Linked DNA regions of Homo sapiens: region 2 is linked to region 1. The links come from fine-mapping of genetic effects on gene expression. A gene starts in region 1. The other region holds a variant in brackets. All regions are shown on one strand. Distances are between the middles of the regions.

Region 1 (8,321 bases):
ACAGGGAGCTTGCAAAGGGACTCAACGTTCTGATTCTATGATGGCTGTGCACAGATCCATGCTTATGGTGTGCCTAATACTGAGGTCCCAAACCATGTACCTTCACCACATCCCACCATTGCTTCCCAGTTGGGACCCCAGGGATGGCTGTTTCCTGGGAAGACACCACCTTCCTCCCTGTCTGACCTGCCAGGAAGCAGGGGATGCGCGCCGAGCGGTTGGTGAGGAGACAGGGGTCATCGTGCAGGTTGTCGAAGGGCAGCAGGGCCCGGCCGTTGTCTTGAAAGCGCTGGTTGATGGCCAGCAGCCCCAGGTAGTTGGTCCGGTTGCGGAGCCGCAGCGAGAGGGAGACCTCACTGCCATACACCATGCTGGCGTCCACAAAGGAGGTGAGCGCGTTGATCTGGTTGCGGACTCTGTTCTTGTTTTGGGGGCATGAGGGTGCCGAGCGGAAGAAAGGGATGCAGTCACGCTGGTTCTTGATGCGGGGGTCATTGGGTGGGATCTGAGATGGAAGAGGAGACAGTGACATGGGGCCCCCTCAATAGCAGACTCACTCCTCTCCGTCATCTTCCACCTCCTCAAAACCTTGCTTAAAACTCCCTTCCTCCAGGAAGCCCTCCTTGACTCACCCAGGCTCATGCTGCTCACCCCGTCAGTCTGAGTGTCCTTAACATTTTGTTTCATAGAGTCTCAAAAGGTTAGGAATGAATGAGGCTTTTGAAACAATCTCGATCCTCATTTTACAGCAAGGAAAACAGCCTCAGAGAGGGGAAGTGACAACCAGTTAGCAGGAAAGGTGGGATTAGAACTTAGTTCTCTTGACTCTTAGGCCTGAGCTTCTTTAATTCTGTTCAATTCGACAGACCTTTTCTAAGCCCCTTTCTTGCTTGCTGCTTTGGAGATTATGAAGGTTAAAAAAACACAGGAAAGGTTGCAGGAAGCTGGCAGTTCAGTGGAAAAAGACACACACACATAGAGTTAAGAAACTAAGTTGAAGTGGCATCTGCTGTGCTTGATAGAAAAGCCATATGTGGGCCAGGTGTGGTGGCTCACGCCTATAATCCTAGCACTTTGGGAGGCCGAGGCAGGTGGATTACATGAGGCCAGAAGTTTGAGATCAGCCTTGTCAACATGGTGAAACCCAATCTCTACTAAAAATACAAAAATTAGCCAGGCTTGTTGGCACATGCCTGTAATCCCAGCTACTCGGGAGGCTGAGGCATGAGAACTGCTTGAACCCAGGAGGCAGAGGTTGCAGTGAGCTGAGATTGCCCCTCTGTACTCCAGTCTGGACAACAGAGTGAGATTCTGTCTCAAAACAATAATAATAATAATAAAGAAGAAAGAAAGAAGGAAAGATAAAGAAAGAAAGGACGGAAGAAAGAAAAAGAAAGAAAAAGAAAGAAAGAAAGGAAGGAAGGAAATGAAGGAAGGAAGGGAAGGAAGGAAGGAAAGGAAAGAAAGAAGAAAGAAAGAAAGAGGAAGGAAGAAGGAAGGAAGGAGAGAGAGGAGAGGGGAGGGGAGGACATATGTTAAAAGTGTAATAGGAAGATCTGAGAAGGCTCCCCAGAGGAGGTGCCCCTAAGCCAGGGATTGAGGAATAGATAAGGTTGCAACAGGGAGAGGCCATCCAGAGGCCCTCACATGTCATCCCTCATGAATGTGGCCCCACCTATTAAGGGTGACTGTGTGTGTACATGTGTGTGTGAGAGGGAGCGTGTGTGTGCACGTGTGTGTGTGTGAGAGAGTGTGTGTGTGCACGTGTGTCAACCCTATGTTCCTAGCAGAGACTCTGCTCCCTGGATTCTATCTTTCCTCCCCTAGTGCCCCACACTGTCCTTGGCTTCTAGCCTGAAGGTTAGGACCCTACTTACAGCCCAAGCCCAAGAAGCTGGCAAGAGCCGCAGGACCCTTGGACTACTCTGGGAAGGAGAGAAGGGCAAGAGCTAAGAGGCCCTTAGGTTGCCAAAAGCAGGGGCCCAGAGGCTTCCCCTGTTGGATTCAGACCCATGGGTCAAGGCATGTGTCAAGGGCTTCCCACTCCATGAAGCCTGACCTGAGCCTCCTGGCAGATTGCCCTACCCCCACCTCTCAAACACACACGGCGCGGGGTCTCTGCTCAGCTGTGTTTCTTGTGTCTCTGTCTCATACCCTAGCTCCACAGGCAGCTCCTTAAGGATGGTGCTCCAGTCTTCCAGATCCCCACCCCCAGCACCTTGCCTTTGGGGGAGGCCACACAAGGGCATGGGAGATTGGCTGAGGGTAGGTACCTTGATGGGAAAGCAGGGGGGCAGCTGGGCGCAGGTCCTCTCACAGTCAACGCCTGCAGTGAAGGCCACTCTGGCCGGGGACTCCGGGGAGAAGTCCAGGTCATGGTCAATGAACTGGCCCCACTGCATGAACATGAGGGCTCGGCCACGGTCGGAGGTCAGTCTCTCATTGGGGAAGCGCACAATCTGGTTGGAGACAGCCCGGACCTGGTGGGGAAATAACATCAGCACGGGACATGGGCTCCCTGACCCCACAAGGTATTAGAGCCAACCCAGGACTCAGGGAGCAGCAGCTCCCCTGCTGGAATTGACAGCCTCTCCTCTTCTGCCCTCCATGCCCCTTTTGTCCCTGGAGGCGTAGCCACCTCCTGCTCTCATTCCTAGAAGGATGGTTTCTGGCTGGGCTCCTGAGGATTCCGGTGGTAAAGAGAAGGAGAGGGGCTAGGTTGACTGGCTCAGACCTCACCAGCTCTCCCAGAGGGGAAGGGAGATCAAATAGATAGATCAATTTGTACACTGATAGCTAACCAGATGATAGCACGGATTCACAGGTGCATGGGCTGGTTGCCAGGTGATGGATAATACACGTAGGGAGTACGGGGTCAGCAGATGGAAGGGTGGATAGAAGAAAATTAATTAATAGATGTTGATAGATGGGTAGATGATAGACTGCTCTATCGATATATCAATAGAAAACTGATGAGTTGATAAATGTGAAATAGATCAATAGATAAAGCCAGATTAAGGTATAGAGCTGTTTATATTTAGCAAGACTTTGACACTAATTTTCTCAGAAAAAACCGTACAACACCGTAATGGTTAGCATGAATAGATCATGTCCTCTATAGCTATTTATACCAAGGACTTCAATATCCACACAGGCTCTACGAGGTAGGTTTTAGGGCCATTTTACAGATGAGGAAACTAAGCCTCAGAAAGCTGTGTTATTTGCCTCAAGTCACTGCACTGGTCAGTGGAAGGGCCTGGGTTCAAGCCCTGCCTGCGTGACTCTGGGCTGTGTTTTACTCCCCGCATTTAAGAGATCAAGCAACCTCCCAAACCCTCAGCCCCAACTCACAAGAGGGAGAAGGAAGCCATTGCGCCTCCTGCTGGGGGTCCAGCCGAAGGGGAGCGACAGCCCATCCTCATACTCGGCGGGCAGCCAGCGAGCCAGAGCCTGGTTGGAGGCCCCTAGCAAGGGTCTCCTCCTGCAGCCATGGGTGGGATAGGTTAGCAGGGGGCAGGGCCTGGAGATGGCTCAGCATGGAGGGAGAGGGTGGGTGCAGGAAGGGAGAGGTCCCCCAGGCAGGGGCAGCCCCTCCTGCCGCCCCGCACGCACTTGTTGTTGCACCGTCCAGTGATGGTGCGGTACTTGTCGCTGCAGCGCTCGGCCTGGTCCCGGAGAGCACAGCCACTGGCCTGGGACAGCAGCCGCAGCTGTGGTTCTGTTAGCACATCTGTGGGAAGGCAAATGGGCAGACCTGAGCTGGCCTGCTCTGTACCTCCCATCCCTTTACCCTCTCTCCTCCCAGCACCCCAAACCTGTGCACCCTGCCTCCCTCTCCTGGATTCCTTCTACTCCAGGCCAGGGTAGGCCCAGCGGGCTCAGTGGGGATCAGAGTACCAGTGACATTGAAGGGTCCGGACCGCTGGGGTTGTAACTTCTCTTCAAGCAGCCCCAAAGCCACATGCATATAATCTGCGGCCCGAACAACTGTCCTGGTGGCTGCTACCGGTTGTTTGAAGTAGGACAGGAGGTCCATGGGGCTGGCTGAACCGCTGCGAAGCCGCTGCTTGATGCTGCCCAGGAGAGGAGGAGTGAGGGCTGGAGAGAGGGTGCAGACCCACCCAGCAGAGACCCAGTCCTGGGGCACAGTCAGGACAGGGCAAGCGGACAGAAGGATGGATGGAAGGGAGGCTCTACCAACAGGAAATGTTCATGGGGTCCAGAGGTGGCTGATGAGTGAGATGAACTTGGCTGGGGCCCATGCCCCTCACTGATCCTCCCAGGCCCATGCAGCCCCCAGACCCAAGTCCACCTCTTCTGGGTCCAATTGTAGGCAGCATCCACCAGCAACTTGGCCTCTGCTATGCAGTCTCGCAGGACCGAGGTCTCCACTGCCCCAGGGGAGGCTGTTCAAAGAGATGGGGACTCAGGGTTCAGCAAGCCACAAGACCCCCTCCAAGACCCAAGTGCTTCCCCTTCCATTTCCCCTCCCTCCTCCTTGCCTGTCTAGGGGACTATTACCTGGGTCAGTGCCCTCACAGGGCTGGGCGAGGACGAGTGTGGCCAGGACCCCTGCCAGGGCTGGGAGCAGATGCATCTCTGCAGCGAGGCTTCACCAGCTGGGAAGTGAGTGACATCCACAGCCTGCACGGGAGGATCCTCTGCTCCCCTCTCACTTTGAGGACCCCCAGCCGACCTCTCACTTCCTCCAGCTCTTCTCTGGACGTAGCTGGGAAGGGACTTTTATAGCCCATTCTAGGGTGGGGGAGGGCAGCTCTGGGCCCTAGAAACCCAGCCTCTTGGGTGGAGTTCTGAAACTTCTCTCTGGTTTTCATGGGAGTTTTGAGACTGAAACCCCCCACCCCACCTCCTACCAGCCTGGGGACATTCTTCCTGCCTACCCTTCACTCCATCCCTACCCTCTACTACCAAGCCCACTGATGCACTTCTCCCAGGGCCCAGAGCAGCACCTGGGACACAGGTGTCGCTCAATGGATATTTGTTGGCTGACAGGAGCGGTGCACCTCAGTCGCCACCGCCTGGCTGCATGGCCTTGGGCAAGCCACTTTCCCTCTCCAGGCCTCAGTTTTCACATCCCTAGAATGAGAGTTGGGCCAGATGATTGGAAGGGTGCCTCTCCTCCTGCAACAGGGCAGAAACTGAATCTGCCTTACTGTTATACACACCCCCCATACCCAGCTCAAAGCCCAGCATTTAGTATGTGCTTAGCAGGTGTTTGTTGAGTGAATGAATGATCTGTGATGAATGATTTGGCCCCTCTCCTTATCCCCTAGCCCTACTCACTCCCTCCAAGGTGCCAGGGAGAGTGTGAGGCTGTGACTGAGGCAGGGCCTGGCAGTGAAATCCCTCATGGGGCCATTTTGGGGACATGGCGAGATGTCACAGGTAAAACACCCAGCCCAGTGAGCTGCTGCAGAGCCTAAAAGTAAGCGCCCGCCATGGGCTTTATTCTCTTGGAGTTTCTTAGGTGCCAATCAGTAGTAGGTTTACTCTGAGAAGTAGATTTCAATTATGAGTTCCTATTGGGCTTGGTGAGAAGTAGCTTCTTTAGAGGCAGTGTGCTGCACCAGGGTCTGATTGGCCTGGATTGAATCCAGCCCTGTCACTAGCTTCGTGACCTTGGGTGAGCCTCCATTTCCACCTTAAGTGCGCCTCCATTTCCACCTTAAGTGCAGAGTGCATCCCAGTCGGCCTTCTGCCAGGGCCCACCCTCTCTGCACCTAAGCCTTCCTCCTGTAGTTCCCTGCCCTGGATGAGCCAGGTTCATCCTTTGCCTCTGACCTCATCCCGGCTGCCTGGAGAGCACATGCTCATCCCTGAGACAGTTCCAGAGTCACCACCACTGTGGCCAGCAGCCTGCGTGTCCTCGCCCCTTCTTCAGGAGGACACGTCCATTCCTTCTTCAGTGTGGACCCCGTGCCTGCTCCAGACTCCCAGGGAGGCTGTTCCAAGTGTCCTTTCTCCTCCCCCACCCCCACACCCTACCGAAACCCTGCCCGGTGCCTTCCACAGCCTCCTCCTCCCACAGCAATGTTACCAGCCCAACCGTTGCTCTTGAAACAACCACCTCTCTTCGGCAACCCCTTTCACAAGCTCCAGTTGATGGCCTGAGCCCTCCTAATCTTATCTCCTTATCTTTAGCGGAGGCCCCTCTCCTGTGACGGGGGGCCTGGGTAGAAGTCACTGTGTAGGAGCTGAAAGCACACTGGGTTCCTTGATGCTGACCCACTGAGTGACTGGGTAAATCACACCCCTCCATGGACCTGTTTCCAAACCTGTGAGATGGGGACAGGGAGCCTCATGGAGGAGAGAGATTATATAAATCACACAGCACTCCTCAGCTGTGTGTCACCTCCCGGCCCTCAGGGAGCCAGGTGCTCCCCGGGTGGAGCCAGGTGGAATGCATGTACCCCAGGTTGGAGCTGGATGGGGTGTATGTACCACAGCTTGGAGCCAGGGTGGGGTGTATATAACCCAGGTTGGAGTTGGAGTAGGGTGTATGTACCCTAGGTTGGAGCCAGGGTGGGGTGTATGTACCATAGCTTGGAGCCAGAGTAGGGTGTATGTAACCCAGGTTGGAGTTGGGGTGGGCTGTATGTACCCTAGGTTGGAGGCAGGGTGGGGTGCATGTACCCCAGGTTGGAGTTGGGGTGGGGTGTATGTAACCCAGGATAGAATTGGGGTGGGATGTATGTACCCCAGGTTGGAGTTGGAGTGGGGTGTATATACCCCAGGTAGGAGTCGGGGTGGGGCGTATGTACCCCTGGTTGGAGTTGGGGTGGGATGTATGTACTCCAGGTTGGAGCTGGGGTATGGTGTATGTAACCCAGGATAGAATTGGAGTGGGATGTATGTACCGCAGGTTGGAGCTGGGATGGGATGCATATACTCCAGGTTGGAGTTGGGGTGGGGTGTATGTAACCCAGGTTGGAGCCAGGATGGGGTGCATGTATCCTGGATTGCTGTACTTCCAGGGTCCCCAGCACTCAGAGTGAGCTCTGCTCTCCCTGCAGAGGGTACTCTAGTTCTTCAACAATAGTGAGCAGTGCAAGGGTTTCTCCACAGCCATGGGCTGCCGTGGGTTATTGGGACAAGCCTGAGACAGAAACCTAGGCTCTAAGCCCAGCCCTGCCATGGTGGCTGATCTCTTGGGGATTTGGACCTATTGGTTGCTCGGGGTGGTGATGAGAGCCTGCTGCCTGGCTCTCCTGGACTCTGGCTCTGGATGTCTCCTTAGCCTACTTTCTGCCACGTTTCCCCCACAGGACCCTGCCCCTAGGCTCCAATCATCCTAACCTTCCACATATAACCCCCACCTTTTCTCTCCTTCCAAGCAGCTCCTAATTCTGCCGGAAGCTTCCTCTTCCTAGCAGGTCCCTCTGGGAAGCCATTTCTGAGTCACCCCACAAGCTGGGCTTGGTGCCATAGCCACAGCACTTAGCAGGCGGGAGCTCCTTGAGAGCAGTACAGGGAGGTGGCTACAAGCTGAACTTGGTCCCCATTCTAGCACCGTCATCCACTTGGGCAGGCTCCTCAACCTCTGAGCCCACCTCCTCACTGTCAGATGGAGGTCATTCCTAGTCTACCTCGCAGACATCATTCCTGACACATAGCAGGCGCTCAACAGTGTTGTTGAACATACCTTGTTTTTCTGCCCTATTGTTGCTTCCTTTATTGAGGTCCCTTGAGGCTGTCTGTCAAAGGCAGCAATTGCCATTGGCCTGAAGGGTGGAGGCAGTGAGTGCAAGGGATTTGCAGACCCTTCAGGGCTGGGCGCCTGGAAGGGAGGCCTCCAAGTTTAGGGCTGTTCAGACCGAGGCTCTCCAAGCACTCCTCCTCATGTCAGAGTGGGCGTGCCAGATACGGGGCCACTGGAGACGGAGTGAACGTGATGAAGTGACAGAGACCTCTCTAGCCCCTCTCCAGGGGCTTTCCAGCCTGGACCCCACCCACCCTCTCCAGCTCTGGCCCCCACTATGGGGCAGGTGACATGCAGGGTGCTCGCCATGTCTCACAGTGGTCCACGTCGACATCTGCTTTTTCCTCCCTCTGGTCAGGGCCAACCACATGCAGGGACAAGAAGAGGAGTGTAGGCAAGGGCCCCCTGCCCTCTGTGTCCCCCTCGTGGGCTTTTCATCGTGCCCACTGGGATTTCATTGGCAAGATTTTCCTTAGCATTAAGTGTTGTGCAGTAGCAACCTGGAGTATCTGACACTGGAAATATACACACACACACACACACACACACACACACACGTACACACACACACACACACACATATATATATATAGAGAGAGAG
Region 2 (8,306 bases), 85 kb before region 1:
CTCAAGCAAGAAATATCCTCTTCTGTTTCAGAATTATTCTGAATCATTAACCCAAGTCCTCCCAACTGCACTGATCCTGTCCCAGAGAGGCCCTGGGCTGCATCACCTAACTGATCACTAACCACAACCAGTTCTGCTCTCTCCTGGTTCCTGAAATCCAGGAGCAGATGGTGGTGGGGAGGAGGAGTTTGGAGACAGCCCTCTACCAGAAGCCAAGAAGAAAGGGGAGTGAGGAGGGATAGAGGAAGTTATCTTGGTCCTGCGCCCACAGTCCCCAGGGTCCTCCTTCCTGTGAAGCCCAACGGTCTCCAGCCAGATTTCCTGTCCCCTTAGCCCCACCAAGAACCAGAGGCTGCCCATTGGGTGGCTGTTGGATGCAGGTTACTGTTGGAGTGGGGGATGGCCACCTGAGGCCAATTGGGTCATCTTTACTCCAGGTCTCCCTTTCATCCTCCTGTCTTCCCTGGGGGCACTCTATTCCCTGCAATTCCTTGGGCTACCAGTTCCTGACTTTTGTTCCTTTCAAAGGAACCCTGGATAACCAGTGTAACCAGAATTTCAGAGGGGTTAGTTGTGTGTATCCCCTGGGGACAAGCACTGGTATAGGCACACAATGGTGAGCTGAGAAATCTTGGGCTGGTAGTGCTAAATTCAAAGGCTGGGGACAGGCTGGGGCCAGTGGCTCATGCCTGTAATCCCAGCACTTTGGGAGGCTGAGGCGGGTGGATCACTTGAGGTCAGGAGTTCAAGACCAGCCTGGCCAACATGGTGAAACCCTGTATCTACTAAAAATACAAAAATTAGCTTCTTGCCTAAGGAAAAATACAAAAATTACTTCTTGCCTAAGGAAATAATTGATGATGTGGCTAGAGGCTAGGGCGTGGTGGCGGGCACCTGTAATCCCAGCTACTCGGGAGGCTGAGGCAGAAGAATCGCTTGAACCATTGCACATCAGCCTGGGCAACAGAGCAAGATAACGTCTCAAAAAAAAAAAAAAAAAAGGCTGGGGACAATGCTGGCCCCTCCTTTCCTGCCCCTTCCCCCCATTTCAGGGGCCCCTCTGTGTGTACCTTCCAACCCCAGTGGGGGAGGAGAAAGAGTTCAGTCTCCAGGATCAGACCTTCCTCTACCTCACCCCACCCCCAGCTTAGAGGACATAAAAGCGCAGATTGAGCTAAGAGGAGCTGACAATATCAGGTGAGCTGTGGAGGTGGGGTCCTTGGAAGCTGGATGACAGCAGCTGGCAAGGGGATAAGAGAGCAGTGAGCCCCTCCCTCAAGGAGGTCTGGCTTTATCCATAGACAGGGCCCTCTGAGGTGGGGCTGAGGTACAAAGGGGGATTGAGCAGCCCAGGAGAAGAGAGATGGGGGTTCCCTTCTTCTCTTCTCTCAGATGCATGGTGGACTTAGGACCTTGCTGGGCTGGGGGTCTCACTGCAGAGATGAAGCTGCTTCTGGCCCTAGCAGGGCTCCTGGCCATTCTGGCCACGCCCCAGCCCTCTGAAGGTGCTGCTCCAGGTAACAGTTCCCAAGGTGGGAGAAGATGGTGTGTTGGGGTGGTTGTGTTCCAGAGACCCCTTTTCTCAGAGCAGGCCTTCCTAGCTCTGGGGCCTGATAGGGGGTTGGGGCCCATTCCTGACTTTGTGATCCCTGCTCTGGGCAGCTGTCCTGGGGGAGGTGGACACCTCGTTGGTGCTGAGCTCCATGGAGGAGGCCAAGCAGCTGGTGGACAAGGCCTACAAGGAGCGGCGGGAAAGGTGGGGCACGAGGCACTGCCCAGCTCTGGGCAAGGATGTCCCAGGCCTTTCAGAGAAGCAGCAGGCAGCAGGGAGCTTGAAGGTGGGAGAGGGGGACTATGGGGACCCATGTGGACTCCCTTTCTGTCTGTCTGTCCCTGTGTTTCTGGATGGGAGAACAGCTTAAAAGCCATCCTTCCCAAAGCCTTGCCTCTGTCTGGACACCCAGGTCCATATCCTTTTTATAAAAGGAAGCCTTCCTCCCACCCGTGGGCCTGCCTGCATGGTCCTGCATGTCTGCCCCTGGGCTGGGGCTCTGCTGGGTGGGTCTGTATCCCTTCTCTGGCCCTCACTCCTCCTTTCTCCAAGCAGCATCAAGCAGCGGCTTCGCAGCGGCTCAGCCAGCCCCATGGAACTCCTATCCTACTTCAAGCAGCCGGTGGCAGCCACCAGGACGGCGGTGAGGGCCGCTGACTACCTGCACGTGGCTCTAGACCTGCTGGAGAGGAAGCTGCGGTCCCTGTGGCGAAGGCCATTCAATGTCACTGGTACTGTTGCCCATCACACCCCAGGTCCCTGCTCCACTAGTGACTCCTCCTAGGGACCCCAGCCGTCTCTCAGTGATCCCCTCAACTTCTTCCTCCAGGGAGTCTCAGGAGTCTCCAGGGCTCCTCAGCCTCAGGTTGCCTGGGATAGGAAGTGAGGCGGCTCAGCTCCCCCATTGTTCTTTCCCCCGGCAGATGTGCTGACGCCCGCCCAGCTGAATGTGTTGTCCAAGTCAAGCGGCTGCGCCTACCAGGACGTGGGGGTGACTTGCCCGGAGCAGGACAAATACCGCACCATCACCGGGATGTGCAACAACAGGTGCGGCTGGCTGGGGGTGGCTGCAGGAACCGGGCTCAGAGAGGCGTCCCGGACGCCACAAGCCTCCCGGTGTCAGCGCCCTGTCCTCCCCTGCAGACGCAGCCCCACGCTGGGGGCCTCCAACCGTGCCTTTGTGCGCTGGCTGCCGGCGGAGTATGAGGACGGCTTCTCTCTTCCCTACGGCTGGACGCCCGGGGTCAAGCGCAACGGCTTCCCGGTGGCTCTGGTGAGCGCCGGCGGGCAGAGGGGGCGAGGCCCGGCCACGCGGTGCGCGGACCCAGGCGCCAGCTGATCTCCGTGTCCCGCAGGCTCGCGCGGTCTCCAACGAGATCGTGCGCTTCCCCACTGATCAGCTGACTCCGGACCAGGAGCGCTCACTCATGTTCATGCAATGGGGCCAGCTGTTGGACCACGACCTCGACTTCACCCCTGAGCCGGCCGCCCGGGCCTCCTTCGTCACTGGCGTCAACTGCGAGACCAGCTGCGTTCAGCAGCCGCCCTGCTTCCCGCTCAAGGTGGCCCTGCTTCCCGCCCACTGCCTGGGTTGGGAGAGGGGAGATTGTTTCTGGAAGGGGCCATCTCCCTTCTGTGCCCAGGTTTCCTTTCCCAGACGCTGAGGAAGGCTGGCCCTGCCTCCCTTGTGTCCACAGCACTGGCTGCTCAGCTATGACCTGTCTCCTTCCTGCGCCTGGGCTCAGCCAGCTGGCAGCCAGGGCCGTCCATTTGCTCACTGCCTCTGGCAGGCCAAGGGAGAGAGGGTTGTTCCTCCTTGGCTGACAGGAGTCCTGTTGGTGGAATCACTGGCTCTTTGTTAGGTTGGGAGAGGGTTCTGGGAGGAGACCTTCTCAGTGCCCCCCAAGCCTCCATGCTCAGTCCTGTTTCCGCCCCACTGAGAGGGCAGCCCCAACCCCCATCACACAGAAAGAGAGAGCCTGGGGGTCTGGTGGGTGCCGTGGGACAGGGCTGGGAGTGGGCAGGGTGGTCGAGGCACTGCTGAGTAGGGAAGGAGGAGGAGAGAAAGGAGAGAGCGCCTGAGAGAGGGAGAGACAGACAGGAGAATGTCAGGGCCAGAGGGAGAGCAGGCACAGCAGAGAGAAGGGGAGAGAGACGGGCGACGCTTTAGTGAGGAGGGATCCGAGGCCTGGCGGTGCCCAGACCCAGGGGTTGCCCAGGTTCCCAGTTCAGTGTTCTGCTCATTAACCCTGCACCTCAGAGGCTGTTGCTGATGGCGCCCTAGGCAGCGATCCCTTTCGGGCCTCCGGAGGCCTCTCTGCAGGTTGAGGGTACCAGAGGTCCTGAGGGCAGGGGGAGATCCAGTTCTGCCTGGGCACCTTCCTTGCCCTCGGTGAGCCAGTCTAGCCTCTCTCTGTGCCTCAGATCCCGCCCAATGACCCCCGCATCAAGAACCAAGCCGACTGCATCCCGTTCTTCCGCTCCTGCCCGGCTTGCCCCGGGAGCAACATCACCATCCGCAACCAGATCAACGCGCTCACTTCCTTCGTGGACGCCAGCATGGTGTACGGCAGCGAGGAGCCCCTGGCCAGGAACCTGCGCAACATGTCCAACCAGCTGGGGCTGCTGGCCGTCAACCAGCGCTTCCAAGACAACGGCCGGGCCCTGCTGCCCTTTGACAACCTGCACGATGACCCCTGTCTCCTCACCAACCGCTCAGCGCGCATCCCCTGCTTCCTGGCAGGTCAGCTTTGGGGTGGGGACCAGAGGTGGCATAGGAGATGTTCCCTGTTGGAGCCACAGTGAGTCTGTTTGTGAGCAGCTTGTGGGTTTGTACTTAGAGAGACTGTCCTCACCAGCCATTACTATCAACTTCATGATATTAATCCAGTTGCCTTGGTAACAAGTCAGATGGAGCCAGAAAAGCAGAAAAGCAAACAACCTCTCCAACCCTAAGATGGAGACCCAGGCATGGCTGAGGAGCCTCTGTCCATCAGTCCATTGCTTTCTCTGTCCCTTTTTTCCCTTCTGGACTCTGGAAGACAAGAGAGTCAAATCCCTCAGGGGCAGGGAACTAAAGGACAGAGAACGCTGTGGTGCCCTCACCC[T/A]CTAGAGCGACACTATCCAATGTGGTAGCCACTAGCTGCATGTGGCTATTTTAATTTTAGTTATTTTAAATTAAATAAACCCAGTTTCTCAGCGGTGCTAACCACATTTCAAATGCTCAATTGCCTTACAGTCTAGTGGCTCCCCCTATTGGGTGGCACAGATGTAAAATATTTTCATCATCTCGGAAGGTTGAGTTGGACCACACTGCTCCAAAATATCCCCTCCTGCGCATCTTAATTACCCATAATAAGAGATGATGGGATTTTAAATGTAAACAATTGGCAGTTTTGGAGACACAATTGGGGCAGTGATGGCAGCCATGACCAGACATTTTCCAGTGTTTTTTTTTTTTCTAAGACGGAATCTCACTCTGTCACCCAGGCTTGAGTACAGTGGCACAGTCTCGGCTCACTGCAACCTCTGCCAACTGGGTTTAAGTGATTCTTCTGCCTCAGCCTCCTGAGTAGCTGGGACTACAGGCGCCTGCCACCACACTTGGCTAATTTTTTGTATTTTTAGTAGAGATGGTGTTTTACCATGTTGGCCAGGCTGGTCTCAAACTCCTGACCTCATGATCTGCCCACCTTAACCTCCCAAAGTGCTGGGATTACAGGTGTGAGCCACCGCACGCAGCCATTTTCCAGTGTTTTTAAATGTAAACCCAATAGTGGACCTCAGGCCCTTTCCTCTGGCCTCCCTCTGCCTCCTCCTGATGGTTCCTGCTGGTCTCTCCCTGGCTGGGACCCTGGGAGGAGGATCCAGGTCGGACTTTCTGCAAGAGATGCCCGACCTCTTCTGGGCTAGTTAGGCAAGGGCAGCCCTCCTTAGCCAGACTCAGCTGCCCACAGCCTGGCTTTGATGAGCCCCATGTCCCAAGCCTGGGTCATTATGACCTCTAGCTGTTCATGGATGGAGATGCTGCTCTCAGAGAATTTCCTTTCCACCAGCTTCTAGAGCTGGCAAGGACTGACCCTAGTGTCCTGACCCTAGCCCTCTGGCCCCTGCAGAGAAGGGTTCTGGGAGGACTAGGGGAACCAGGGGGGATCTGCTTAGTTTTCTTGAACAGTCTCAGGTGTGGACTCCACATATCTCATGTCCTAGCCCTCTCCCCTGGGGCAGGCTGCACCATTGGCATGTAGTAAAGGGCAGGGCTGACAACTCTGTTCAAATGGTAGTGGCTTTCTGGAGTCCTGTGTTGAGAAGGATTCTGAGGTTGCATCCAATTTTAGCAGGAAAGAGTGCTGTGATCGTTAGCTGCATCAGACATGGGCATGGATGTAGGCTGTGCCAACACGCATGCTTCTTCCCAGACACTCCTTGGAATCAAGAGAATCAATGAACCAAGCAGTGTTCATAAGTCTCATACTTTGTACCAGGCACTCTGTTAAGCCCCATGTATCCATATGTGTGCTAGGAGGGAGGGTAAAATATAAAAAGGCACAAGCCTTGGTCCTGTGCTCAAGGAGCTCCCAGTTTCAGGTACAGGAAAGTGGCATGTCATGTGTTGGAAGTGATACCTATTGAATGAGCATCCCCAACCAGCAGCGGCCCTGAGCTGAGGCAGAAGCTATCATTGTGGACTGGGGCATCAGGGAAGGCCTCCTAGAGGAGTGTAAATTGGGGATAGTTTGAAAAGATGGATGGGGAGGAGGGGTGAGTAGGAGGCATTTCAGGCCTTGGCTGGGGAGGGGGTTTCAGTGGAGCAAATCTTTTCTGGGATGGAGGCCTTAAGAATGACAGTGGCTTTTGCCTCCCCAAGGGGACACCCGTTCCAGTGAGATGCCCGAGCTCACCTCCATGCACACCCTCTTACTTCGGGAGCACAACCGGCTGGCCACAGAGCTCAAGAGCCTGAACCCTAGGTGGGATGGGGAGAGGCTCTACCAGGAAGCCCGGAAGATCGTGGGGGCCATGGTCCAGGTAGGCCGTCTTGAACACCGGGCACACGGGATCCAGATGTGTCCCTGCAACATCCTAGCTGTGTGACCTTGGGCAAGTTCCTAACGCTCCTGAGCCTTGCCTTCTTCATCCATGAGGCTGTAAGGATTATAATACATATATGAAAACACCTTTCAGATAGTAAGTGCTTGACAAAGCCTCCTTCCCTTCCCTCTCCTTCTTCGCAGGTTTGCTCCCTGCAGTCTTCTTTCCTGTGGGTCTGTTATTGGTGTTGGGAGGGTTGAATGTTTGGTTTAGCGCCCAAGTAGCTGTTCAGTAAATTCTTCTTCCCTCCATCTCACTGTCACTCTTAGCTCCTTTACCCACTCACCTCTTCTTTTTAAAATTAAAAAAATTATAGGGCTGGGCGCGGTGGCTCATGCCTGTAATCCCAGCACTTTGGGAGGCGGAGGCGGGTGGATCACGAGGTCAGGAGATCAAGACCATGCTGGCTAACACGGTGAAACCCCATCTCTACTAAAAATACAAAAATTAGCCGGGCGTGGTGGCGGGCACCTGTAGTCCCAGCTACTTGGGAGGCTGAGGCAGGAGAATGGCGTGAACCTGGGAGGCAGAGCTTGCAGTGAGCTGAGATGGCGCTGCTGCACTCCAGCCTGGGTGACAGAGCGAGACTCCATCTCAAAATAAATAAATAAATAAAATAAAATTTAAAAATTATTATTATTATTTTATTTTTATTTTTTGATACAGGGTCTTACCCTGTTGCCCAGGCTGGAGTGCAGTGGTGCGATCTTGGCTCACTGCAACCTCCACCTTTCAGGCTCAAGCCATTCTCCCATCTCAGCCTTCTGAGTAGCTGGGATTTCAAGCACGGGCCACCACGCCCGGCTAATTTTTGTATTTTTTGTAGAGACGGGGTTTCGCCACGTTACCCAGTGTGGTCTCAAACTCCTGGGCTCAAGTAATCCGCCCTCCTCGACCTCCCAAATCCCTGGGATTACAGGCACGAGTCACTGTGTTCAGCCCACTCACCTCTTCTTTTTGGCTCTGTCATAATCCACCCAATGTCCTTAGCCTCATTTACCCCTGGGGCAATGTTCCTGGTTCTGTCTCTCAACATCTGGTGCTTCATTGCCCCCACCCTCTCCCTCAGAGGCAGAGGCAGACATACACACACTCACACACACACACACACACACACACACACACACACACTCCTAGATTCTGGAGGAGAGAGTTTTCGGTGCTAAGGGTGAGTTTTTGATTTGCACTAAGAACTCAAGTGAAATTCATTTACACTCCAAAATAACTTCTAGACTCTAGAATGTAGAGTGAGACTATTCCATGTCTTCACTTTTCACAGGGAAAATCATGCCAGAATGGCCCTTCGTTCCTTCCTGCCTCCCTGCTTTCCACAAACCTAAACTGAGCCTTACTGTGGGCAGGCACTTGGTGGGCACTGTGAAGAATTTCAACAACTTCAATTTCCCTTGCTCTCAAGGACTTTATAAGATAGTTGCAGAAATGAGACATTAATAACTTGAGGACAAGGAAGTTATCACAATGACTAAAAAAGTGATTTGCTATTTAGTCCTCTAAGGCAGAGGGCAATATAATTATCCTTAATGTACATTTGAGGAACTCAGGCTCAGAGAGGTTAATAATTGGTCCAAGGTCACCCAGCCAGCAAGCAGTAGAACTCTATTTATGCCTCTCAGTGCCACTCTGTTAGGCCCAGGTCCGGTAT

Alleles and levels. Positions count from the first base shown, and alleles are read on the strand shown. Sizes are in standard deviations (SD) of each study's normalised expression.
With allele T in place of A in region 2, the expression in tibial nerve of the gene that starts at base 4,718 in region 1 is lower (moderate effect, 0.61 SD a copy in GTEx).

What was found. PIP is the estimated chance that this variant, and not a neighbour inherited with it, causes the effect.
Region 2: its variant is fine-mapped to the expression of EPX in tibial nerve (GTEx, PIP 0.93).

What each region holds. Positions count from the first base shown.
Region 1 is chr17:58,189,123-58,197,443 of GRCh38, reverse strand. It overlaps EPX (eosinophil peroxidase), which reads right to left and starts at 4,718. Exons shown (of 13, transcript NM_000502.6): 1 at 4,522-4,718; 2 at 4,313-4,406; 3 at 3,898-4,073; 4 at 3,613-3,730; 5 at 3,352-3,481; 6 at 2,274-2,480; 7 at 187-505. The coding sequence starts at 4,597.
Region 2 is chr17:58,273,816-58,282,121 of GRCh38, reverse strand. MPO (myeloperoxidase) reads left to right here and starts at 1,187. Exons shown (of 12, transcript NM_000250.2): 1 at 1,187-1,517; 2 at 1,663-1,756; 3 at 2,108-2,283; 4 at 2,476-2,599; 5 at 2,696-2,825; 6 at 2,908-3,114; 7 at 3,977-4,295; 8 at 6,420-6,580. The coding sequence starts at 1,364. RefSeq lists promoters at 1-107, 153-378, 263-664, 1,057-1,197, 603-1,197 and enhancers at 2,839-3,528, 5,536-5,557, 5,496-5,615, 4,660-5,615, 5,610-7,876 and 3 more. The variant T/A (reference allele first, on the strand shown) is at 4,660.